7 linked regions of the Homo sapiens genome follow. The protein of the gene in region 2 interacts with the protein of the main gene of each other region in a biochemical or structural test. Each region holds a gene or a part of one and is shown on either strand. Other genes may lie near its edges.

Region 1 (3,500 bases), on a different chromosome or scaffold from region 2:
TTGTCTTCTTTGTTTTTTAGTCATTTCAATTGTAAAATCAACTGAAACTTAGGTTCTCGCCATCTATATAAAAACTGAGAGAGGAGGCCTCAGATTGTATGCAGTGCCACGGAAAGCACTGTGTGCATATTATATTTAATGCAATACAGATACTTTAGCTTTAATTTTAAAACAAAACTCAAGAAATCTTTATCTCCACCAAAGAAGAATACAGCATTTGCATGATAATATAGTTGTGGTAGCAGTAGTGGAAAAACAAGATACAGCCACATAGACAGCAGTATGTAAAAGGGAAGAACCTTGTCAAACCCATCTCTTAATCTACTTTTTGTGTCAGTGATAAGGAAGGAAAAAGGTAAAAATACAGTATACTTCACGAAACATCATCCACTCAAAAAAGTGTCTGGAAAAAGTACAGGAGAGAGAATGGAACCATTCGCAAATGTGAAAAACACATATATCAGCGAAACATATGCAGTTCTCAATGCAGTTACATAGGAAATGAGTTTTGAAATGATCTGATTCTCATATTATCTCTGGTGTATTATTCAAGTTGTCAGTTACTGCTTTTTCTACTCCTTTCCCAATTTTGTGGCTAATAGACTAAATACCACCCTAATAACAAAAAGGACAAAGTAGCCCATTTAAGAAACATGAATTAAATTTCTGAGTTTATCTACATCTATGGTTAATTTCAACTTTTGAATGAGTGGTTGTGAATAGCCTAACTCCCTTGGGAGAACTGTAAAAATAATTGTATGTGACCAAGATGAAAGCAGAATGTATTCAGCTTTGGATATCAAACACAACTTGTGAATTTGGAAATGTACATCCTTCTATTGATATTAGCTAGTGTCATTAAGCCATAACAAACAGTAAAGCTAATATTCTCTTCTCAAGAAACAGAATTTGTCTTTGTCTTTAAATAGCCAATGTGAAAGATGTAATAAAATACACATTTTCCCCCTACCAGATCCATGATGGCTACCTTTGAAAGAGGACTGATATAATTGTATATAAACTTGGCTTTGAACTATTTCACAGGTAAACCAATGGAAAACTGCCAGTTACACTTAAAGCAAAGAAAACATGTAAGAATTCTCCCACAGAAATTTACCGTTCCTACGTCAAGCAGTTCCCTAAATAACCACTGATTTATCCAACAACCTATAACAGTTGGGCACTGACTTTATGCATAACATTTGCTAGATGTTGCTTAACTTCTCCTTTCCCAAAGGACCCTCATTCTCGTCCTGATACTTTGGGTGTATCTGGATGTTTTTCACTTGTGAAACCCACTCTTCAGAGAATGCCTTTCAATTTTACCTTCAGTAAGATGCATGATGCCCTTCAGAGTAACTGATGTTTCTGAGTTAGAGAAAAATTCACTTGCTATCAACAGGTTGCAGCGAATTTGCTGGCCTTTCTTTCATTTCCCTAGAAACACAGGATGTGAAGGAACAGAGTAGCAGGAGGGAATCACAGATGAGAAGGAAAACTGTCGCCAGAGAAGATGAAAAAAATTCATGCTCTATACTGTGTTCATCTGTAAAAAGACAAAATGTGGTTAAGTTTATTACACTGATCTTGTGAAATGCAGACTCATACATTAAACATTGCTTGTCTATTCTAGAATGAAGTAGTAGGAAGATACTTGCAATGGCAAATAAATACCGTGGAATAAGAGGGCCTTCAGCATGTACTATGTATTATCCTGGGCTAATCAAGACCTTTTATATCACCTAAGCTGACGGATTATTACTCTGCTGCCCACTGGCTTAATTTTGTGAATCCATCCAGACTGCATAAAGCTTTTTGCTGTTATGCAAGTCTGGGGACAGAGCAACGTGTCAAATCTGCTCATGTGAAACGGGTGAGGAAATGCTGAGCCATATGCCAGAGGGAGAGAGGAAGGAGAGGGAAATGATACACTTCCCCTAAAGGCCACTCAGTGGGTAAAATCAATGACTGTGTTTCAGGTACAGACTAAAGAAGCAGAATTACTAAGAACCCCTTCACCTTCCCCACCAGTGCCTTCTGCCCAGCTGCCTTGACCAGGACAACTTATAGTAAGTAAACTGTTCATCCAAAGGATACTAGCCTGCCAGTGACTTCCTGTCTGACTTCCACACTGGTCTTTCCCCTTAGACCAGATGCTTTCAATCGAGGATGATTCTGTCCCCTGGCAATGGCTGAAGACATTGCTGATTGTCCCATCTGGCTGTGAGGGTGCATGTGCTTACTGGTATCTATTTGGTAGAAGCCAGAGGTGTTGCTGAACCTCCTACGAAGCACAGGAAAGCTCCCCACCCCACCAATCCCCAACAAATAATTCTGAAGCCCCGAATACCAGTAGCACCAAGACTGAGACACATGGCACTAGACTGGAAAGCCTCTGGAGAACTTTTTTTTAATCCCAAGTGCTCAATAGTGTGTGGTACATAGTGGGCTCTTAGGAAAATTATTTTGGATTGAAAAGCACAGTGAAAGTGTTGCCCCTATGTTTCAGTCTAGCTTATGTTTCTCTTTTCTTTTTCTTTCTTTTTTTTTTTCAAATTGGAGACGGAGTCTTCCTCTGTTGCCCAGACTGGAGTGCAGTGGCACCATCTTGGCTCACTGCAACCTCCACCTTCCAGGTTCAAGCGATCCTCCTGCCTCAGCCCCCCTAGTAGCTGGGATTACAGGCACACACCACCATGGCTGGCTAATTTTTGTATTTTTAGTAGAGATGGGGTTTCACCGTGTTGGCCAGGCTGGTCTCAAACTCCTGATCGCAGGTGATCCACCTGCCCCGGCCTCCCAAAATGTTGAGATTACAGGCGTGAGCCACCGCGCCCGGCCTGGCTGATGTTTCAAATGTGTGCTTAATAGGGTGGACCGTGGGGGTAAAGAGAGGGAGGGAGGGGGAGATAGATAGATAGAGGAAGAGAGGAAGCCCAGATTCAGATCCTGTCACTGCGTGACCAGGGCAAGTGGCTTAACCTCTCTAAATCTCAAAGTCTTCATCTATCAAAAGGGGATTAATAGTACCTAGCAGATAGGCTTGTTAAATTAGATGGCATACGTAAAATGTTTAGTATAGTAGACAGAAAGTAGTAGACAATTAATAGCTAGTCCTATCATTATGAGCTTTGGCTAAAGGCCTCTTGGAGAGTAGACTGGTTCTATTACAGTCCCAGAGGAAAACACTGATTACACAGGAAATCCAGACTAAACAAATGCCCAAGTCATACTGCAGAGAACACTGGTGCTCTGGCTCTCTTGGACAATTTCCTCAGGAGCCTATGGTCCTGTTGCTCCTGAGGCTGCACCAGGCGTTGGCCCCTGGTACCACCCTCTTTCAGAGCTGCAACCTCCAGACTTGGCAGAAGACAGCCAGCTTGGGGAGAGCTGCTTCTGTTTCAGAGTATACACTCTGATTCTAAGAGTAGATGCTGGATGGAAGTCATGGCCAAGGGGCAGGACAGCAAACCATTGTGAAGTCAACCCAATTTAGAGAC
Region 2 (3,500 bases):
CTGGTACAGGCGGTGCTGGTCCTCATCCCAGAACGGGGGGTACCCAACCAGCAGGATGTACAGGATGACCCCTGGAAAGAGGACCAGAGAACCTTCAACCCCCTGTGGGGAGGAGACATGGGGGGAGGGGAGTGATGGGAAAGGAGAGAGGGGGCCCCAGAGGCCGGGGTGCAGCCAGGGGCACAAAAGGGCCTTAGGATGAACTCACCACAAGCCCACAGGTCCACAGGCTTCCCGTACGGGTCCTTCCGCAGCACTTCTGGGGAGAGATATCCAGGAGTCCCTGCAAACCCTGCTCCCAGACACACAGACAGGCAGACACATACACAGAGGTTGTCTCGTAAGTAACCTGGAGCAAGATCCTGCTGGAAGAGGGGATGAGGATTGCTCTGGAGCTGAGGAAAACAGCCCCTGCCCCTCAGGTGCACTTGGGCTTGTATTGTGCAACCCCAGTCGGCCCAAGACATAAGCCTGATGAGCCAGCAAAGCCTCTAGATCAGATCGACAACTACCTAGCACACCTGTCACCACTTCCCACTTCAGAGCCAGTGGTAATCAGCCACAGAACTCCTTCCTACTGGGTCCTGACTCAGGATCATAAGCTTCTCAGCACCACTCTTCCAGGAGCCACTAGTGATCCATTGCTGGTGGCTTCAAGATGAAATGCACCTGCCATGTCAGCCCCAGGCTGAGAGCTAAGCCCACTCTGCACCCCCTTGTTGGAGTTGGTCATGGGATGTCGGGAGGCCTGTCCTAACTGACTTTGCCCCTTGGGTACGTCTCTTTATCTTCTAGTCCTTGTTTCCTCATCTGTCAAATGAAGGATTAGGGATTCCTATCTTAAGTGCCTCCCAGGGTTGTTGAGCCGGTCAGTTCAAATAATGGACACCTGAGGTATTCTAACAAGCACTTTTAAGAACACTTACAAGTTACCGAGTGTGTATGCTAAGCATTGGGCTGAGCACTTCATATGCCTGGTCACATTTAATTCTGACACCACTCCTGAGGGACACACAATTATTATTCCCATTTTACAGATGAGGAACGAAGGCACAGAGAGGTGAAGTGACTTAGCCAAAGTCACATACCTCATAAGTAGCAGAGTCGGGATTTGAACCCAGAACTCTGGTTCTTAACCATGGCTCAATATTGCCCACTAAAAAGTACTCCCAGGTAGCTTAAAGAGACCCAGTTATACCAAAATCACAAAGCAGGCTGGATCATCTGAGTTAAGTCCTGGTCTATCCCTTTTAAACTTTCTTGACCTTCTGCAAGTTTTCTGCCAGTTTTTTCCTCATCTATAAAATCAGGATAATAATCTCAAGCACCTAGACTATTAGGGCAGCTCTGTGGAAACTTCCCTAAGGCCTTCAACCACAGGGAGCCCTTTGGGGAGGAGAGATGGCGGAGGGGAGTGACAGGAAAGGAGAGAGGGGGCCCCAGGGAGCCCTGTGGAAGGCCGTAGGGTCCCATGCCTGAACCCTGGGGACACAGATAGGTGCTGCCCACTGGCTCAGAGGCTGGGTGGGACAGGGCCTCTGCTCTACCAGCCCCGGCTGGCCCAACAGCATCTCCAGCCATACCCACTCAGGCAGGGGGTTCCCAGAGGCTTATGTGTCAACACAAATGGGTGCTGACCCCCAACACTTCTGCCAGCCCACCCCACTTACCAAACCATGCCTGCTGCTCCCCCTCCACCTCTATGGCCAGGCCAAAGTCTGCCAGCTTCACTGCGGCACCCTTGAGCTTGGAGGCCAGCAACAGATTCTCAGGCTTGTCAGGACCAGAGAAGAGGGAGGAAGGGGAGGAAAGCGCCAAGAGACAGTCAGCAGATTCAGAGCCTCACCTCTAGGGGCCTGGGCTCACAGGAAGAACAGCCCGGCCCTCCGGGGCCCCTGCTTTCATCTCCAGCCCCGCCTCAGGCTCCTGAGTCTCAGTCCCCAGAGAGGGGACTATCCTATGGCAAGACCTCCATCCGCTACAACAGAAAGGCCCTTTCTCCATCAGCCACTCCTCCCTCCCCACTTCAAGATCTGGGGCTGGGCTGAGGTGAGAGCGGGGTGGTACATTCACCACCACAATAAAGCAGCAGCAGCAGCAGCAGCATTGATTGTGCCCCTACTATATGTCAGCTGCTGGGTTAAGTGTTCTGCGTGCATCATCTCTTGTATCAACGACCCTTTCGGGTAGGTATTATTACCTACATCTTCCACAGTGGCCTTCCTATGCCCCTTGAAACAGTCCATCTTGTTTCCACCTCAGGGCCTTTGCACTTCCTGTTTTCCTCCTCTAATTTTTTCTCCCCCAAGCTTCAAAGTGGCCCCTTTACTTTGTCCAGCCCTCAGTCTCATGTCACCCCATGGAGGAGGCCATCCAAGTTTACTCTATCTAGAGGGGAAGCCCTCAGGCATCCTGTGTCTTTGCTCCTGTTGTTACCTTCATAGATCTCATCACAATTTGCAGTGTTTTCTCCCATCTGTCTATGTGCTTGTTTATCATCTGTCAGCCCTGGGGAATGTGAGTTCCTTATCTGTCCTGTTCACCACTGTATCACCAGCACCTAGGTTGGGGGGCCACACAGCAGGCACTTAATAAGTATTTGTCACGTATATAAAGATGAGAAAACTGAAGCTCAGAGAGGTTAAGTGACTTGGCCAAGATCACGCAGCTGGTAAGGGATAGAGCCAGAATCGAGGCAAAGTCTGACTCTATCTTAACTGCTCTAGGCTGAAAGATGATGAGGCTTATACATGGGGCCAGCAGCTGACTTGGGAAGGTCCCACACCTGGCCTCTGGGCATCGAGGCTGCTGCTTTGCACTGGCTCAGCCTCCAGAATTCCTCCACTTCCTGCTGGTCCCTTCACCCTGAGACTCAGGATGGAGGGGCGCTAAGACTGTGGGCTCGCTTAGATAGTCCCAGTTTCTGATCCCGATGCTGCCCACCTCTATGCCATGACATATGGGCAAATTATTTCACTTCTCTGAGCTTTAGTTTCCTCTGAGAAAAATGCTTACCTTATGGGGTGGTGCATGGATTAACTGAGATAATCTGTGTAAGCACTTCGCTGTGGCCTACAGTAAGTGCTTGGTAAATGTTAGTACTTCTATTTTTGGCTTGGGGAGGGGCTCAGAGTCTCTGAAGACTGTTGGTTTTGAGTCCTCCTCTGATCCCCTTCCCAGTGGGACTTCTGAAGGGTCCCACCTCTGACCTTTCACTGTCTAAAGCTAGGCTGGACCCAAACAAATATAGCTCCCTCCGCCTGGCTCAAAGGCCTCCTTTGTCCTCTGGGGACAATGTTCCTAACATGTCCTGGGTCTCGGTAACCGTCCTGCCCTGATTTGATGAATGTGTCACTAATTATTATATCCAGAGTGGCCTAAATTTGGGCTGCCTCTCCTCCTTCCTCCTCCAGTGCAGGGGCTGCAGCTATAATGGGAACAGGCCCTCTGGGAGAGGTGCCCTGCAGTCTGGCTGGAGACCCTCTTGGAGTGCACACTCG
Region 3 (3,500 bases), on a different chromosome or scaffold from region 2:
CACGAGGTTAGGAGATTGAGACCATCCTGGCTAACACAGTGAAGCCCGTCTCTACTAAAAATACAAAAAAATTAGCTGGGTGTGGTTATGGGCTCCTGTAGTCCCAGCTACTCGGGAGGCTGAGGCAGGAGAATGTCATGAACCCGAGACCGCACCACTGCACTCCAGCCTGGGTGACAGAGCGAGACTCCATCTCAAAAAGTAAATAAATACAAATAAAAATTGAATGTACATGTGCCTTAACATCTAGAAGATGTACAACAAAAATATTAAAAGTGATTAGCTATGGGTGATAGGAATATAAAGGGTTTTTATTTTATTTTTTATATCTGTATTTTATAAATTTATAATGAGAGGAGCCATTATATAAAATTATTAGTGTAGAAAAGGGATTATTCATTGAGTTAGCTAGGTATATTTTCCCTAGAGAAGACTCAGGAAAGAGAACATAGTAATTGCTTCAAATATTACAAGAGCATTTATATGGAATTGAGATGAGATACTCTGAATAAGGTTATGGTTCTCAAACTTCAGTGTACGGGAAAGTATGATTGGGTTCCTGTTAGAGTTGACTTTACAGAGTATCCTGTGTGACTCTAATGAAGCTATTCCATGGACCACATTTTGAGAATCAAATAAAACTAAGCAAGATTTATAGTGGCCAGAGAGAAAGTGATTAATAAGTAAGGACTTTATTACTATCCAGAGATGGAAGCTTCTGGTTTTACCCTATATGCCAAAGACACTGTCTTTATAGGGATCTTCCCCCCAGGCTTCACAGTCACATATTTCGCTGCCTGCTAAAATAAACATCTCTACAAATTCAGATGTCAGAGTAGTTTCATCATCTTCCATTACAACCCCAGTCACCCAAAAGCCTATCCTTACTTCTTGCATTCTCTTTTTCAATTAAGGACAGTCTGCCAATTCTCTTTCAGACATGAAACATTGGGTCATCTGCAGTTCCTCTCTCACCTCTTTTAACTATTCATAAAGCCCTTTCTGGACTGCTTCCAAATTTTCATAAAATCACTTCCCTCGTTCCCATCTCTACTACTACTAACTGCCCTCTTTTTGGCCTTCATCATCTTTCCTTAACTACTTCATGGGCTTTCTTCGTTGGTCTCCCCACCACCAGTTTTCCCCCTGAAATATATATCTTTCACACTGCCACTAAAGTGATTTTTTTTTTTTTTTTTTGAGATGGAGTTTTGTTCTTATTGCCCAGGCTGGAGTGCAATGGCGCGATCTCGGCTCACTGCAACCTCTGCCCCCTGGGTTTAAGCAGTTCTGCTTCAGCCTCCCAAGTAGCTGGGATTACAGGCACCTGCCACCATACCTGGCTAATTTTTTGTATTTTTAGTAGAGATGGGGTTTCACCATGTTGGCCAGGCTGGTCTCGAACTCTAGACCTCAGATGATCCACCCGCCTCGGCCTCCCAAAGTGCTGGGATTACAGGCGTGAGCCACATTGCCCGGCCTAAAGTGATCTATCTAAAAGCAAACATCACCATGGTATTCAGGAGTTCAAAAGCCCTTCAGTGGCTTCTGCAATACCCTCAGGATAAAATGCAGTTTCTCTGAGGTGACATAATACAGGCTTTTTGTGACTAGCACATCTAGCCCCACCTGCCTCTGTTGTTTTCTCTCTCCCTACTTCATACATCATACAGTAACACACTTATGTGCACCATTGGTGCTGAGCTGCTGGTTATCCCACTCTGCCATGTGTGCTGTTTCTCTTTGCTTTTGCCACTACTCCACTCTGTGCTTGAAATTCTGTGACTCTTCCCTGTAAGTAATAATAACAAGTCTAACTTTTTTCTTTTGTTTTAAATTCACATTCTTCCCTGATAGCCTCCCCTTCTCTTAGGTTGGGTAGAGTAATTCTCAGTGTGTCCATTTTTCTTTTAGCAAACCTCATTACTAAACTGAATTGTATTGTGTCTCTTTTCCCCATTCCTTCGCATACATACCCCCAATAATTTATTTGAGGTCAGAGACCCCTATCTTTCTCACTTTTGTAGTTTCAGTTCTAACATTATTCCTGGAACATAGGTCCCCAATAACTGTTTCCTGATTTAGCAAATAAAATTCCTATCCTTGAATGTGTTCAAGCATAGGAGCAATAAATAACATCTGATAGACATGTATGATTTAAGGACCCTTTTAACCTGGGTATTGACTCATTAAAACTGCCTTAGTTCTAGACTTAGTAGGTCAGGTTTGCTTATGCTTGAGAGCAGTTAGATTTTAGAACGTGACTTATTTAACATGATATTCTTTAGAATTTTATGTTTCTTCAAGGATAGTATATCTGTTGACCTTGGGTGAACACTTAATCTCATTGAGCAGTTATTTGTGTTTTTAAAAATGGAGATCCTTATCACCCAGTCTTCAGTTTCTTCAAATAGCAAAATCAGAAATTGGAAATGAAAGCAGGTGGGAAAATGTAAAGTGCCATACAAATAAAGTGATATCTCATGTTCAGAGAGTCTGTATTACATATTTGGTATAACATGGGAATAGTTTTTAATTTTTTGTCACTTGGGAAGAGCTGAAAAGGATAGGGGTATAGTTTTTGGTGTTTTTTATAGTGTTTTTTCTTAAAGAATATTAAATTTAGTCATTACTTTCATATCAGTGAAATACATATCTAGCAAAAAGGTCACGTTTTTGCTTCTAAAAAGTTATTTCATATTGAACATGAGTACTGCCAAAGAGTGTCTGGGATGATAATTCTTTTCTGTGTTCAACACCATAGGTATCTATGCCAGCAGCTCATGCAACATCATCTGCTCCCACCGTAACTCTAGTACAGCTGCCCAATGGGCAGACAGTTCAAGTCCATGGAGTCATTCAGGCGGCCCAGCCATCAGTTATTCAGTCTCCACAAGTCCAAACAGTTCAGGTATGTGTATAAAAAGTTCTGCATCTATTTTAATAACTTTTGTTTATAGCCATATCTCTCTCCTTTCACTAGTTATGAAAATAAGGACACATCTAGTTCAGTTTATTTTATTCACAGTATAGGAATATGCTGCATCTGTATAGTCACCTTATGTATAGGAACATATATACAGAAGAACAAACATAAAAGAAAATGACTAATTTCTTAAGCTGCAGAGGAAAAAGAATTGATTGGGGAAAATAATGAAGTACATGAGATAAAGTGGAAGTGTTTGGGAGAAACTGTAGGACTGAAGTACCTCAGTCGAGGAAAATTGAGATGCAAAAATAGTAACTAATTTTCTAAATCTGCAATTGGAGAAAAATATACCCTTGATCAAAAATTAATAACCTTACCTAAGATATTATTTGACCTTAGAGATTACATAAAGCATTTGTAAAATCAGCTGTGCTTAGGGTTTTCAGTTACAGTGTGTAACTTTGAAATAATATATTCAGAGGTTACATCTTAAGGGTCAGGAATTATACTATGCATGTTATCTAATTCTTTGGAGAGATCTTTCCTTTGGGTTTGATCCACAGGTAATAAA
Region 4 (3,500 bases), on a different chromosome or scaffold from region 2:
AGCTCCAAATTGTGAGCCCCCAAAGGTCGCCCTACAGATGGGGAACCAGAATATAGGTTGTCAAAAGGCAAAGCAGGGACCAAAGCACGTACCAGCACCCCAAAGGCGATGATCTTCAGCACGCATTCCATGGAGAACATGGATGTGAACACGATGTTCAGGCATTTCAGCATCAGCTCGTACTCATAGGGTGCATCATAGAACTGCCCGGGGAATAGGCACTGTTGGCCATGGGTTTGGCAGCCCCAAGACACCCCATCTGGGACCACTATGACCAAGCAAAGCGGGCAGACAGAACTCGATGCCTGCCTAGGCCTGGGACACCCCTTCCTGCTCTCCCCGAGTCCTCCCAGAACCTCCCCACTGTCCCAGCCCACAGACAACAAAGGGAAACAGGATTCCACAGGCATCCCATGCTGGCCAGGATGCAAGGCCACTACTGCTTTGGCTCATGCAGGGAGGAAGAAGGCTGACTCTCCACTCAGCCTCAGGGTTAGATCCCAATCCCTAGCAGCGCCAGCTGCCCCTCTGCGCTGAGCCCCACACACCTTCATCATCAGCACCACAGTGTTGAGGGCTATCATGGCCATGATGAAGTATTCAAAGGGCGGGGAGACCACAAATGTCCACGTCTTATACTGGAACGACTGCCGGTTTTGGGGCATGTACCGTGTCAGGGGTTTGGCGCTGATGGCGAAGTCAATGCAAGCCCTCTGTAAGGGGAGAAAGGAGCACAGAGACTCAGAAGCAGAAAACCTACCCGACGGCATCTACTGCACCCAGCCCTGTCTCGCCAGGCCTCACAGGGAGCCCTGACAACAGAAGACAAATTGAAGCAGCCCAGACCTTCTCCAAGCAGGCCTCAACCAGCCAAATCCGGTCCCTCTGCAGGAGAAAGGAGGACCTGCCCCTGTGTTGGCAGACGGTGGCAGCCAAAGCTGACCCAGCTGTGAGTGATTTGTGTGCAGGAGGGAAGCCTGATGGCGCTGCCCACGCTGTCCACTGCAAGACTCCACAGAGCGTCCACCTACCTCGTTCTTCTCCAGGCTGCATTCAGACATCACCTTGTCCCCCTGCTCCTGGAAGGTGATGATGATCAAAGCCACAAAGATGTTGACGAAGAAGAAGGGAAAGACCACAAAGTAGACCACGTAGAAGATGGACAGCTCCATGCGGTACCCAGGGCTTGGACCCTGCTCCTCATAGGTGGCATCCACGGAGTGTTTCAGCACCCTGGGCAAAGAGGAGAGCAAGTGTCAGGGGAACCCCCAAAGGAGACAGCCCTAAGAACTCAAGACCTGCACCACAAGGGTGGGTCTGCTTCCATGCCTGAGCCCAGGGATAGAGGGAGGAAGGGAGGCCGAGCTCAGGGGCTGCCTGCCCCAGCTACGGAGAGCAGGATGAGCACTCACATGGGCCAGCCTTCTCCCGTGGACACTGTGAACAGCGTCAGCAGAGCCCAGAGCACATTGTCGTAGTGAAAGTCGTATTTCTTCCACTGCCTGGGCTGAGCTTCCACTTCCTCCTTCTCATAATCCAAATACTGACCCCTAGGAATGAGAACATGGGAGGTTAGAGGGCAAAGACAAAAGATCCAAATAAACCCACCTATCAAGAGTGTTGAAACCATTCCGTGGGGAAAGAATGGCCTCTCCAACAGACTGTGCTGGGAAAACTGGATGTCCACATGCAGAAGAATGAATGTGACCCTACTTTACTCCATAGACAAAAATTAACTCATGATGGATTCCAGACCTAAGTGTAAGGAGCTAAAACTATAAAACACTTAGAGGAAAACGGGGGCAAAACTTCGTGACCTCGAATCTGGGAATGGAGCCTTAGATGTGACACCAAAATCATGAGCAACAGAATAAAAAATACAGATAAATCAGGCCGCATCAAATCGGACACTTCTGTGCTCAGAGGACGCCGAGAACGTAAAGAGACAAATCCACAGAATGGGAAAAATACTTATTTCCTAATCCTCTGTCTGATAAGGGAGTTGTATTTAGAATATGTAAATAACTATTCTAATAAATAAAAAAGGCCGGGCGCGGTGGCTCACGCCTGTAATCCCAGCACTTTGGGAGGCCGAGGCGGGCGGATCACGAGGTCAGGAGATGGAGACCATCCTGGCTAACATGGTGAACCCCCGTCTCTACTAAAAATACAAAAATAATTAGCCGGGCGTGGTGGCGGGCGCCTATAGTCCCAGCTACTCGGGAGGCTGAGGCAGGAGAATGGCGTGAACCCGGGAGGTGGAGCCTGCAGTGAGCCGAGATCGCGCCACTGCACTCCAGCCTGGGCAACAGAGCGAGACTCCGTCTCAAAAAAAAAAAAAAAAAAAACCCAAATAAAAAATGGGTAAAGGATCTGAATAGACACTCCTCCAAAGAAGATATACAAATGGCTATTAAGCACATGAAACGCTGCTCAACACCACTCATCATCAGGGAAAGGCAAATAAAAACCACCACGAGACACCACTTCATGCCCATGATGATGGCTGTAGTTTAAAAAATACCAAAACTAAAAAGATGGAAAACCACAAGTGTTGGCAAGGATATGGGGAATTCAGAACCCTCATGCATTGCTGGTGGGAATATACAATGCTTTAGCCACTTTGGAAACAGTCTGGCATTTCCTCAAACAGTTAAACACAGAGTTACCCAATCACTCATTAATTCCACTTTTAGGTACACACCCATGAGAAGCAAAAACAGACCCACACAAAAATGTGGACATAAATGTATACAACAGCATCATTTATAACAGCCACAAGGTAGAAACAACCCAATGTTCATCAGCAAATGAAAGAATAAGGAAAATGTGGCACAGCACAGAACACATATTCAGCCGTAACAAGGAACAAGGCTCTGACACAAGCCACTGCGTGGACAAACCTGAAAACATCACACGAAAGAAGCTACTCACAAAAGACCACATATTGTATCATTCAATTTACAAAAAGTGTCCAGAACAGAGAGGTTTACAGAGATTAAAAACAGATTCATAGTTGGCTAGGGGTGGGACAGGGATGTAGGGGATGATAGTTAAACGGTGCGGGTTTTTCTTTTTTTTTGAGGTGCTGAAAATGTGTTCTAAAATTGACTGTGGCGATGCTTGCATGTACCTGTAAATAGACTAAAAGCCACTTAATTGCACACTGTAAGTGGATTGTTATGAACAAGCAGTATAATGTGTTAGTTACATCTCAATAAAGCTGTTTTTTTGTTTCTGTTTTTGTTTTTTTTTTGAGACAGAGTCTTACACTGTCGCCCGGGCTGGAGTGCAGTGGCACAATCTTGGCTCACTGCAACCTCCGCCTTCCAGGTTCAAGCGATTCGCCTGCCTCAGCCTCCTGAGCAGCTGGGATTACAGGTGCTGGCCACCATACCCAGCTAATTTTTTGTAGTTTTAGTAGAGACAGGGTTTCACTATTTTGACCAGGCTGGTCTCCAACTCCTGACCTCATGATCCACCCACCTCAGCCTCCCAAA
Region 5 (3,500 bases), on a different chromosome or scaffold from region 2:
GGGAAGTGTATTAATTTGGAGGGGGCACACAGGAAGCTATGAAGGTGCTATGAATGTTGTGTTTCTTGATCTGGGTAGTGGTTACAAAGGCATGTTCATTTGTTAAAATTCATAAAATCATTTGCTTATAATTTCTGTTATCTTTTGGTAGGTTGGTTATCCTTCCTTAAAAACAAACTATATTTTAAAAAAACAAAAAAAACAAAAAAAAAGCAAGAAAGTGATTTAAAATATTCAAGACAGTGATTACCTCCAGCAGGGACAAGAAGAAAGGACTGAACACGGAACACCTTGGGCTTTGACAGTATTGGTAACATTCCTTTCCTAAACTCGGTGGCTTATTCACTGTACTGTACTTTAGACACACTTTACATACATGCTTTAATATACATCTAAAATACTCGAGATTTTTAAGAAAGAAAATAATTCCTTATACACCGACATGTCAACAGTAGCTTGTCTGTGGTTAGGCTCTGGTTATTTTATTTTTATTATTTCTACTTTTCTGTTTTTTCCAATTTTTATAAAATCACCTGTATTTCTTGATAATTTTTTAAATACTAATTTTTACAAAGGAAAAATTTATCCCAATTCTCTACCTCAGTTGCCCATAAAACACTTTATATAAAACATATTTTATAATCCAAAGGTAAAATTCTAAATAGTTATACAATAATTGATGGGTAAATTAAATTATTAACAAATTATGAATAAACTTTTTAGAATGGATATGTTCTATAGCTTGATTGTGCTGATAGTAAAAGAGATACCGGTATTTATCAAAACTCACTTAATTGGACACTTAAAATGAATGTATCTTATCAGATGTAAATTACACCTTAATAAAGTTGATTTTAAAAACTATTATTGCATATACATTAGAAGCAATTAGATAAGAACACTTTACATACAGTACCTACAAATTCCACAGTTTTCACAGTGATACTGCTTCTTATCTTTGTCAAACAAATGGCATATATCGCAATAATATTCTCCAAACAATGTGCTACATTCTTCACAAGTCTGTTGGGCCTAAAAAAGAAACATAATTAAAAACTGCAATAAACTAAACATTTTGAGTTACCATTTGAATATCTAGAACTTATGTTCAACTATATGCAGTTTATTTTTATAAGTTTTGAAACACCTAAACCAAAGATATTGCTTATTCTAGAAGTTAAAGAAATCTTATTTATGATACTTTTGATTAAATTTTTTCAAACCACCTTAATACAGCTTTTAAAAAGAAAATAGAAATGTCATAAAATCTTACATGTTGAATTTTTTCACAGTTTATGCACTGCACTTCCTTCACTTTAAAGCGATCTAGTTGATGATCTTCATTGTTATCATGACACAAGCGGCAAGTATAAAGCTTGTCACAGCAAGGTGCCTAACACCCACGGAGAAAAAAGAGATATAGTAAGAAGCAAAAGAAACTAAGTGTGCAATACAAAAAGAAAATTTCTTCCTCCTCCTCCTGGATGGAACTGAAAGATTACAACCAATAGATCAGTTGCTAAACTGATCCTAAACATAACATTTCACTAGTTTCTTGGCATATTTTATGTTAATTCTTCCCTTCAACATCACTACGTCTGTATGAAGTTGAACACAACTTTAAAACAAAAGAATTATGAAGGAAATCCCTAGATTGAAACACTAATCCCACAACACCTGATATGCTTTGGCTGTGTTCCCACCCAAATCTCAACTTGAAATGTATCTCCCAGAATTCCCACGTGTTGTGGGAGGGACTTAGAAGGAGGTAACTGAATCATGGGGGCCAGACTCTCCCGTGCCATTCTCGTGATAATGAATAAAATCTCATGAGATCTGATGGGTTTATCAGGAGTTTCCACTTTTGCTTCTTCCTCATTTTCTATTGCCACCACCATGTAAGAAGTGCCTTTTGTCTCCCGCCATGATTCTCAGGCCTCCCTAGCCATGTGGAACTGTAAGTCCAATTAAACCTCTTTTTCTTCCCAGTCTTGGGTATGTCTTTATCAGCAGTGTGAAAACAGACTAATATAACACCCCAATTTCATTCTGAGCCTAAACAGCAAACAGGCAACCTCTTCTTAGACATTTCCAGATAAATTCATTTACATTAAAAATAATAAAGATTATATTCTTATTTTACTAGCTTTTATTAATCATCAACCTCATATCTAATATTGCACAAAATGCAACAAATGTAAGAGACAGCCCTTGTTTTCAAACACGGCAAAGACTGCCAGTTGTCCACCAAAATCTATCCTCTCCTTCCTGGGCACAATTGTTCAGCTATATCAGACAGATGGCCACATGCCCTAAAACATGACAAAATGATACAACAGAAAAATCTCATCCCTGGAGTGACCATGTGGAGCAAAGCCTCATCACCAACCTGCATCACTCGCCTTGGAATTGTTAAATGGAAAGAAATAAAACCTTTACTCTTTAATCTACATCACTGTTGGGTTTTTTCATTACAGCAACTTTACCATTACAAGTATATCAAGAGATTTCCAGGCCAGTGACTTTCCAATACACTGTGACCTTGCAGATCCACTCATTTCTGAAGGCTTCCTATGCCTTGACTTACCATAACGTAGTTCATTCCTTAAAGATTTTAACACTTAACTGGCTTCCTTTTTCTGCAACTCTCAGTTCCTTAACTTTGTCATTTCCAATAACCTTGTCCTCCAACCCACTATTCTCATAGTTATACCGCAGAACAGTAGTTCTCAAATGGTTTGGTCTCAGGATCCCTTCACACTTTTTAAAATTACTGAGAATCCCAAAGAGCTTTGGTTTATGTGGATTTTATCTATTGACATATACCACATCATAAATTAAAAAGAATAGGTTTTTAAAATATTACTTCTTTTTAAAAGTAACAAACTCATTACTTGTTAACATAAATAACATGTTTTAATGAAAAATAACTATATTTTTCCCCCCAAACAGCTGAATTCTTCTATCTGCTTATGCATTCAAACAGTTGTGGCTGAAGTACAAAAAGAAACTCTGGCCTCACACAAATATGTACACTGGAAAAGAAAGGAGTATTTTAATAGCCTTTTTGGAGAATTATGGATATCATTCTCTGATATTACACTAGAACAACAACTCTTAAAGGGTAGTTGCAACATGAAATCTGAAATCGTATCAAGGAATATGATTGATATGATGCCTCTTTTCTTCCTTGGTTACATTAAAATCTATTGCTCTATCTTGCACTTCAAATGGATGTTTTACTCATGCATTGGTCATCTGGAGAATACCAGTTCAGTGAGTTATTTACATCTTCTAAATGTTCACACATTTAACATGCAATATCAAAAAATCATATTCATTAAAAGTCTTTAGGTATTGAAGAAAATCTCACCAAAAAAAGTCTTTTAAAAAGCTTCCAACCTCACAAAAGCTAGTAAAAGTTTTCCAAAATTCTAATTTTTGTGTGAAAGCTTGAATTTTATCACTGGCAACAAATACTGTCATTTTCATTTGTAGTG
Region 6 (3,500 bases), on a different chromosome or scaffold from region 2:
GCCTCATCCTGCCAGGTCCTTGCCCTCCTCCTGCTCCCCCATTAGACTTAGAGGCAGGAAGTGGGTCCTGTGTTATCTCACTGCCTCAACAAAGTATCTTGTGCAGAGTGGGCACTCAGTGTTTGGAGGCTGAACTGAGTGCAGAGGCAGGAGACTGTTCAGACAGCCGCAGAACAAGGCAGAGCACCACGCACTCCCCCCACGTACTCCTGGAAGCTGCTCTGGGCCGCTGCTGGACCCCCGTTGAAGCTCGCCAAGTTGAGGCCAGTTTCTTGCTCTTGTAACCGACATGATGCTTGTTTTTGTGGGAGAACCTTGGCCTGGATCTGTGATTAATTCTCTAGGGTGGAAGGCTGTGATCAGGATCACAGCAGGAGGGGCCAAGCCTACAGAGCATGGCGGCAGGAAAGGGGAGGTGGGGGGCACTGGATCTGAACTCCTTGGCCCATGCGGGCTGCAGCCAAGAACACAGACACCTGTGTGTGCTTCTCTTGTGCAAGCTCTGATCTCTGTGCTCCACATGCACTGGGACACTCAATCCTTACCCCAAACCTCCAGGGACCCCTGTGTGATGGACTTGGAAGCGGTGGAGCCGGGACCAGGCAAGGCCATCTGTCCATGCTCTGCCACGACGCCATACTGCAGGACTCAGGCAGTGTTTGAACAGAGCCCCCACTGGGCTTTAATGGGGTGCTGAATGCTGAGCCTGTAGGTGTGCAGGCAGCAGGTGGGAGTGGGCCCAGCACGAATCCTGACTTGGCCACATTTCATCTGACTGCATATCCTGGGGAGGAGAGCCCACTAGGGAGCAGGTGCCAAATTCCCCCACGGTGGTGGAGGCAGGGGAGTGGCAGAGACTATCTGTGACTTTGGCGGTGTGCTCTGGGCAAGTGACTGAGCCTCAGTTTTCTCCTCTGTACAATGGGGAGAGGACGTACAGGGGGCCCATACCAGACCGTGAGCCGCAGTGAAAGGCCAAGGAATGTAGCTGCCCCTGACTGTTACAATCATCAAGTCCTGGTGTCTCTATGTGCTTTCCAAACCAGAAGCCACAAAAAGACTACTCAACTACAGAAAAACACAAAGCCTCCATGTGGCAAAAGCCCATAAACAAAAATAAAAGATGCATGGAAAAACATTTGCAAATCATCACAGACAAGGAACCAACCTCCTTCACATATACAAGGAACCTATAAACTGATAAGAAAAACAGGCAAAGGAAAAAAACAGTGTTTGCAGGAAAGGCTGTGTAAATGATCTTCAGCTTTTGAAAACACGCTCAAACTCACTCTGTAACAGAAAAGCAAACTTAACAATTGCCCCAAGACAGGCTTCTTACCTGACAGGAAGAATCCTGCAGCCTGGTGAGACTGTGGGGAAATGGACCTTCTTGGGAATGTAGTGCCAGCCCAGGCTGGCATGGCCTGAGGTGGGAAGCTTGGCAAATCTACCCAGACTGTACGTGCATCAGTTCCAACCTAGCCATCCCACTTCTGGGGATGTGTCCTACAGATATAGGTACACTTGACTCTGAGCAATTAATGCTGCACAAAGTAGGTAGAGATGCATTGTTTTTAGCACCGAAAGACTGAAAAGATCTTCATGCTCACCCACAAGGGACTGCATGATGAATGCAATGTCCGCAGCCCCAAGAAAGGATGGGTGCTCCTATGTGCTGACGTAGAATTATCCACCATGTGCATGGTTAATCAAACATAGCTGGTGGAGAACAGCACGTGGGAAAAGTGGGGTTTGAGGGATAAACAGTCATTCCATGATATCTGAATGCTCGCAATCCAACCTCAGGAGACACATGGATGAGACAGTCTTCTGAGAAGAGGTCTGAGTGGGACTGTCATCCTCATGTCCAGGTGATGACCTGAGTGCCAGGGTCCCAGGCAGCCTCTAGTCAGTACAGCCCCAAGCCAGGTTCCCTCCAGCCTCGGGGCAGCATCACCTCCCTGAGGCCTTCCTCACCCACAGCCTGTGGCCTCCTTGTCCGTGTGTATGATGGGCTCTGGTCTGCACTGGGCTGCACTGACTGCACTGGGATGCCTGTCAGTGCAGAGGGCTCTGCTCTCCCCCGGAGCTCTGGGCTCCATATAGCTGTGACCCACAGAGCTCTCAGGAAGGGCTCACGTGGGACCCCCGGCCACTCAAATCAGGCAGGGAGCCCTCCCTCTTGAAAGGTGCCAGGATTACTACTACCTGAAGTTCCCAGGCTGGGTGGGGTTCCCCTATGGGCCCAGCATGATGGAGGCCAGGAATATCCTGGGCCTGGGCGCAGGGATCCCCTTACCTGCCGTTCTGGTCTGTGTGGCTCCATCAGCTTCACCACCTGTCCCTGCTGTACCAAAATGACCTGGGAATCCCCGAGCCAGGCGACGTGCAGGGTCGCTCCTGCAATGAGCGCACACACACCTGTGGTGCCGCTCTGCAGCCGCTGCAGGGAGAGAGGGCCCATGAGAGTTGAGAGGAGGTAGGGAAGGGCAGAGGATGACACGGGGCAGGATGAAGCTTCCGGGGGTGATGAATACTTCCGTTACTGTGGTGAGGAATCCACAGGTGTATATGTGTATAAGCCAAAACTTGCCAAATTGTGGACTTCAAATATGCACCACTTACTACCTGTCAATTGTATCTCAATAAAGATGTTTATTTATTTATTTATTTATTTATTTAGAGACAGAGTCTTGCTCTGTCATTCAGGCTGGGCTGCAGTGGCACAATCTCGGCTCAGTGCAACCTCCGCCTCCCGGGTTCAAGTGATTCTCCTGCCTCAGCCTCCCAAGTAGCTAAGATTACAGGCGTACAGCACCACGCCTGGCTAATTTTTTGTGTTTTTAGTAGAGACGGGGTTTTGCCATGTTTCTTTCCCAGGCTGGTCTTGAACTCCTGAGCTCAGGCAATCTGCCTGCCTTGGCCTCCCAAAGTGCTAGGATTACAGGCGTGAGTCACTGCGCCTGGCTATTTATTTATTTAGAGGCAAAATCTTGCTCTGTCACCCAGGCTGGAGTGCAGTGGCACAGTCTCAGCTCACTGCAACTTCCATCTCCTGGGCTCAAGTGATTCTCATGCCTCAGCCTCCCAAGTAGCTGGGACTATAGGCGCGTGCCACCATACCTGGCTAATTTTTTTTTTTAATTTTTAGTAGAGGCAGGGTTTCACCATGTTGGCCAGGCTGGTCTCAAACTCCTGACCTCAAGTGATCCACCCACCTCAGCCTCCCAAAGTGCTGGGATTACAGGCATGAGCCACCGCGCCTGGCCAATTTTTGTATTTTTAGTAGAGACGAGGTTTCACCATGTTGGCCAGGCTGGTCTCGAATTCCTAACCTGAAGTGATCCGCCGGCCTCTGCCTCCCAAAGTGCCGGGATTACAGGCGTGAGCCACTGTGCCCAGCCTCAATAAAGCAGTTACGCCTGCTTCAGAGAATCCCTTTTCTACTCTGAGGCTGCCTTGAGCTCAGAGGCCTTTGTCACTTCCTGGGGCTGAGGTGA
Region 7 (3,500 bases), on a different chromosome or scaffold from region 2:
GCTGTAGGTCAGTATCATAAAAGTTTGGAAATCAGATGATCCTAGATTTAAATACCGGCTTTGTCACCTTTGTTTGTACTGTGGGACATTGGACAAGTTATTTAATCTATGTTAGTATTATGTTTTATCATTAAAGTCATAAAATAAAGATAAGACACAATCCATAGGGCAGTTGAACATTAAATGTAATAACATAGGAAACGCAGAAAACTCGACATCCAAAGGCCTGGGTAGGATTGATAGTTTGCACTCTGTTCACTATGGGTCAGATACTTTATTTTTTTAATTTATTTTTCTCTTTATGTCTTCTAAAAAAAATGGGATACATGTGCAGAATGTGCAGGTTTGTTACATATGTCTATGTGTGCCATGGTGGTTTTCCTTCTGCACCTATTGCTTTTTTTCTAACTTGTGCAATTTATTCATCATATTCACTCCATGCCATGTACTGCTATAACCCATCCCCCAATTTGAAAATAGTGAAACTAAGGTACATAAATTTAAGTAACTTGCCTAAGGTCACACAAGTAGTAAGCCACAAAGCTGAGATTCAAACCCAGGCAATTTGAAGCCAGAGCCTGTACTTCCAACATACTACAACTCACTGGAAACCACAGTAAAATAATCCCATAATGTTTATTGTTTAGCCACACCACAGAGTAAAGCAGCTCAAAACAAAGGAAACACGGTAAATTTTAGTGCCAAACAAATCAAATCTCTCTCTTTTGCGTATGTATGTATATATATTTCCATTATTTTTGCCTTTTACATATATGGTAAATGGTATATATATATATATATATACACACACACACACACACACATATATATGAATGAAATATATGTTTCCTTATTTTGAAAATGGGGGATGGGTTATGGCAGTACATGTTATTGAATAAGTATAATGAATTAATTGCACAAATAAAAATAAAGTGACCCACAGTGAACACTGCATAAACTATGCACTGTTCTTTGACAGTAGAATAAAAAACGTAGTTTTTATAACTGAAAAGGAAAAACAAATAATGCCTTGTATTGTTGATATGATAATTAAATAAAATAACATACCTACTGCTTAGCATGATGCCTGACGTGCTTAATAAATAGTAGTTATTAGAGCAGGGATGAGTCTGCACCAAGACTTTTGCCTGATGGCCCTTCTGACAAAAGTTATATATAGTTAAAAGATGATTCAGAAAGGTAAAATATAGATTTTCATCTCCTATGAATTTAAAGGAAATGAAAGCAAACCTATGCCTTAATGTTTTTTAGAAACACATTTTAAACAACTAAGATAAAGGAATATCAAGATACTATCTCATTTACAAATAATTGAAAATTCAAAACTAAAAATTGAAGTTTCTTTTCTTGGGTTATATAAATACATCATGCACTAAAAATATTTCTTTTGATGCTCATGTCTTCTTATGTTCTCCTAAGCTTCACTCACTGACTAAAATGACTAGAATTAATATTTCTCTGAATATGAATATAACACATAACACATATTTCTAAAGTGCAGAATCTTCCTGCTTTGTAATAATACATCTTCAATATATCCAACCTCTAAACCAGCCAAATCAGCTTTATCATATAACATATATGTATATCAACATATATAAAAAGTAGTATCTAATATTTTATAAAGTTGGTTTATACATGATCTATCTATCTATATCGAGATACACATAAAAGTACCTCACATGTACGTATACATAATACAATAAGAATGTGTAAGATAAAACATTTGTATATAGCTCTGTCTTCATCCCATGAGGATAGAAAACCTGGGATAAAATTGGTATACAAATAAATACAATATTTTTAATGATCAACCTCATCTCACATTTTCTACTTGTAGTACCACCTACATTTTATTGACACTTAATTTAGTTTCTCTAACCAAAATGATCATTCTGTAAAAGACAATATAGTAAGACTCCTATAAAATATTAAATGGGTTTTGGAAAGAAATAAGAAAAGTAGAATTATTAAAATGCTTTAGTCACAAAAGTGAGCACCTTTGATGAGGTAAGTCATTTTAACATGAAACACAACAATGTTAATAATCAGAGCCAAAATTAAAAATGGTATGTAGTTAATCAAGTATTCCCAAAGTCTGGATAGTTTTTGCTGGTTGGTTATAATAGATATGAGTGAATTTTTCAATTTCCCCCTGGGTGTTTGTCATCATGTCCATAAGGTATACTATAAAGTGATAGTAAAGGCCTGTGTCTACCTATGGAAGAAAAGTGAAAAACTTGGATTATTCAGATACCAACTCCCTCTCCCAAATCATCTCGACACATCCTTTCATAAGTGAACATTGAAGAGTTTGGGCTTTTTGTGAGTGTGTAGCCCGCAGCCAAAACATTCCCGTGTGATAGCACAAACCTCTAGGGGTGCAATTAAAATATCTAGATTGTATATTTTGTCATGTGGAGTGTAAATGACTAGAGAAAGCTTTTTCTCTTAAGAGAAGCTGTTATTTAGGAAGTGCTATGTACATTTTTCTCCTAAGAAACTTGAAAGATCTGTCCAGAGTGCTGACAAGATTTCACAGGGAGAAGGCTGGAAATTTGACGGGACGCACACTACTAACCCAATGAGTTCAGGACGCAGTATTTTCAAGTCCTAAACCAATGGCATGTTTAAATGGAAATAAACATGCATAAAGGACAGAAATAGCCACAATTGATTCTTACATGTGTAATTACATTGAGGTAACTGAGAAATTAAAGGAGGAAACTCCCTGCACTCCATAAAGAAAACAGCATAAAGCACACCTAACAAGAGGTAGCATACCTGAACACTCCACAGCTGACAGTAGAATGTCATGCAACTAAGACTTCCACAGAAAACCCCTGCTTATGTCCCACTGGAGGAAGGGCTGCACGTAGTCCTGGTCAATGCACCTTTGGCTGCTTCAAATGGCCAGTGCCCAGGATTAGAGACACAAATTAGCTCTAGCTTTGTCCTGAGAAACTCTGAACAATAAAATCCCATGTAGCGAATGGAGAAGAAGGTGAAAAGGAGAAGCTGCCTTCTCACTGGTCTGTATCAATTTCTTATTGAAAAAGTAAAGTATTGGAGACCCTATCTTGGTTACTCGATGTTAACAGTCCAGCTAAGGCAGCATCAAGATTGTGTCTAAATAAGCACAAGCGCTTGTTATCCTCTCCTAAATTTCCCTTCCACACAGCAACTCCTCTGAAAGGAAATGAGGGCAGCTGTAAATTCGAGTACCAGGTGAAAGAGCCCTCCAGGTGGACCTGTCACTTCCCTGGAGAGGTCCTAATGCACGTTGGGCTCGGGCCACCGGCTAGCCTCCGCACTCACGGGCCTGCCCTGGGTTTTCTTCCCTAAGTCGCTGTAGCCTGGGCTTCCTCCTTGGCATGCCGCTCATGCCCCCGCCGTGGGATAACTAGCAGGCTTTGTGTTCGAGGGGAAAGATAAATCCATGGAAGAGGAAAGAGCGGGAGGGCTCAGGCTGGTGTTCA

What was found.
Region 1: the proteins of CAMK2A (region 2) and STAT1 form a complex in vitro, tested with the Homo sapiens proteins (one study listed by BioGRID).
Region 3: of the proteins of CAMK2A (region 2) and CREB1, one has a biochemical effect on the other in vitro, tested with the Homo sapiens proteins (one study listed by BioGRID).
Region 4: the proteins of CAMK2A (region 2) and CACNA1B form a complex in vitro, tested with the Homo sapiens proteins (one study listed by BioGRID).
Region 5: of the proteins of CAMK2A (region 2) and RCHY1, one has a biochemical effect on the other in vitro, tested with the Homo sapiens proteins (one study listed by BioGRID and IntAct).
Region 6: of the proteins of CAMK2A (region 2) and PPM1F, one has a biochemical effect on the other in vitro, tested with the Homo sapiens proteins (one study listed by BioGRID and IntAct).
Region 7: the proteins of CAMK2A (region 2) and GRM5 form a complex in vitro, tested with the Homo sapiens proteins (one study listed by BioGRID).

Annotation. Positions count from the first base shown.
Region 1 is NC_000002.12:190,969,172-190,972,671, forward strand, and holds part of STAT1 (signal transducer and activator of transcription 1-alpha/beta), read right to left. Parts: intron 1,547-3,500; coding exon 1,532-1,546; 3' UTR 1-1,531. UniProt on the Homo sapiens protein: Signal transducer and transcription activator that mediates cellular responses to interferons (IFNs), cytokine KITLG/SCF and other cytokines and other growth factors.
Region 2 is NC_000005.10:150,251,774-150,255,273, forward strand, and holds part of CAMK2A (calcium/calmodulin-dependent protein kinase type II subunit alpha), read right to left. Parts: intron 1,774-3,500; coding exon 1,671-1,773; intron 293-1,670; coding exon 209-292; intron 72-208; coding exon 1-71. UniProt on the Homo sapiens protein: Calcium/calmodulin-dependent protein kinase that functions autonomously after Ca(2+)/calmodulin-binding and autophosphorylation, and is involved in various processes, such as synaptic plasticity, neurotransmitter release and long-term potentiation.
Region 3 is NC_000002.12:207,557,462-207,560,961, forward strand, and holds part of CREB1 (cyclic AMP-responsive element-binding protein 1), read left to right. Parts: intron 1-1,660; exon of another isoform or gene 1,661-1,794; intron 1,795-2,764; coding exon 2,765-2,911; intron 2,912-3,500.
Region 4 is NC_000009.12:138,055,782-138,059,281, reverse strand, and holds part of CACNA1B (voltage-dependent N-type calcium channel subunit alpha-1B), read right to left. Parts: intron 1,551-3,500; coding exon 1,413-1,550; intron 1,234-1,412; coding exon 1,032-1,233; intron 714-1,031; coding exon 549-713; intron 204-548; coding exon 93-203; intron 1-92. UniProt on the Homo sapiens protein: Voltage-sensitive calcium channels (VSCC) mediate the entry of calcium ions into excitable cells and are also involved in a variety of calcium-dependent processes, including muscle contraction, hormone or neurotransmitter release, gene expression, cell motility, cell division and cell death.
Region 5 is NC_000004.12:75,507,904-75,511,403, forward strand, and holds part of RCHY1 (RING finger and CHY zinc finger domain-containing protein 1), read right to left. Parts: intron 1,394-3,500; coding exon 1,274-1,393; intron 1,033-1,273; coding exon 917-1,032; intron 1-916. UniProt on the Homo sapiens protein: E3 ubiquitin-protein ligase that mediates ubiquitination of target proteins, including p53/TP53, TP73, HDAC1 and CDKN1B. Mediates ubiquitination and degradation of p53/TP53; preferentially acts on tetrameric p53/TP53.
Region 6 is NC_000022.11:21,928,849-21,932,348, forward strand, and holds part of PPM1F (protein phosphatase 1F), read right to left. Parts: intron 2,444-3,500; coding exon 2,300-2,443; intron 1-2,299. UniProt on the Homo sapiens protein: Dephosphorylates and concomitantly deactivates CaM-kinase II activated upon autophosphorylation, and CaM-kinases IV and I activated upon phosphorylation by CaM-kinase kinase. Promotes apoptosis.
Region 7 is NC_000011.10:89,059,483-89,062,982, forward strand, and holds part of GRM5 (metabotropic glutamate receptor 5 isoform a precursor), read right to left. Parts: intron 1-3,500. UniProt on the Homo sapiens protein: G-protein coupled receptor for glutamate. Ligand binding causes a conformation change that triggers signaling via guanine nucleotide-binding proteins (G proteins) and modulates the activity of down-stream effectors.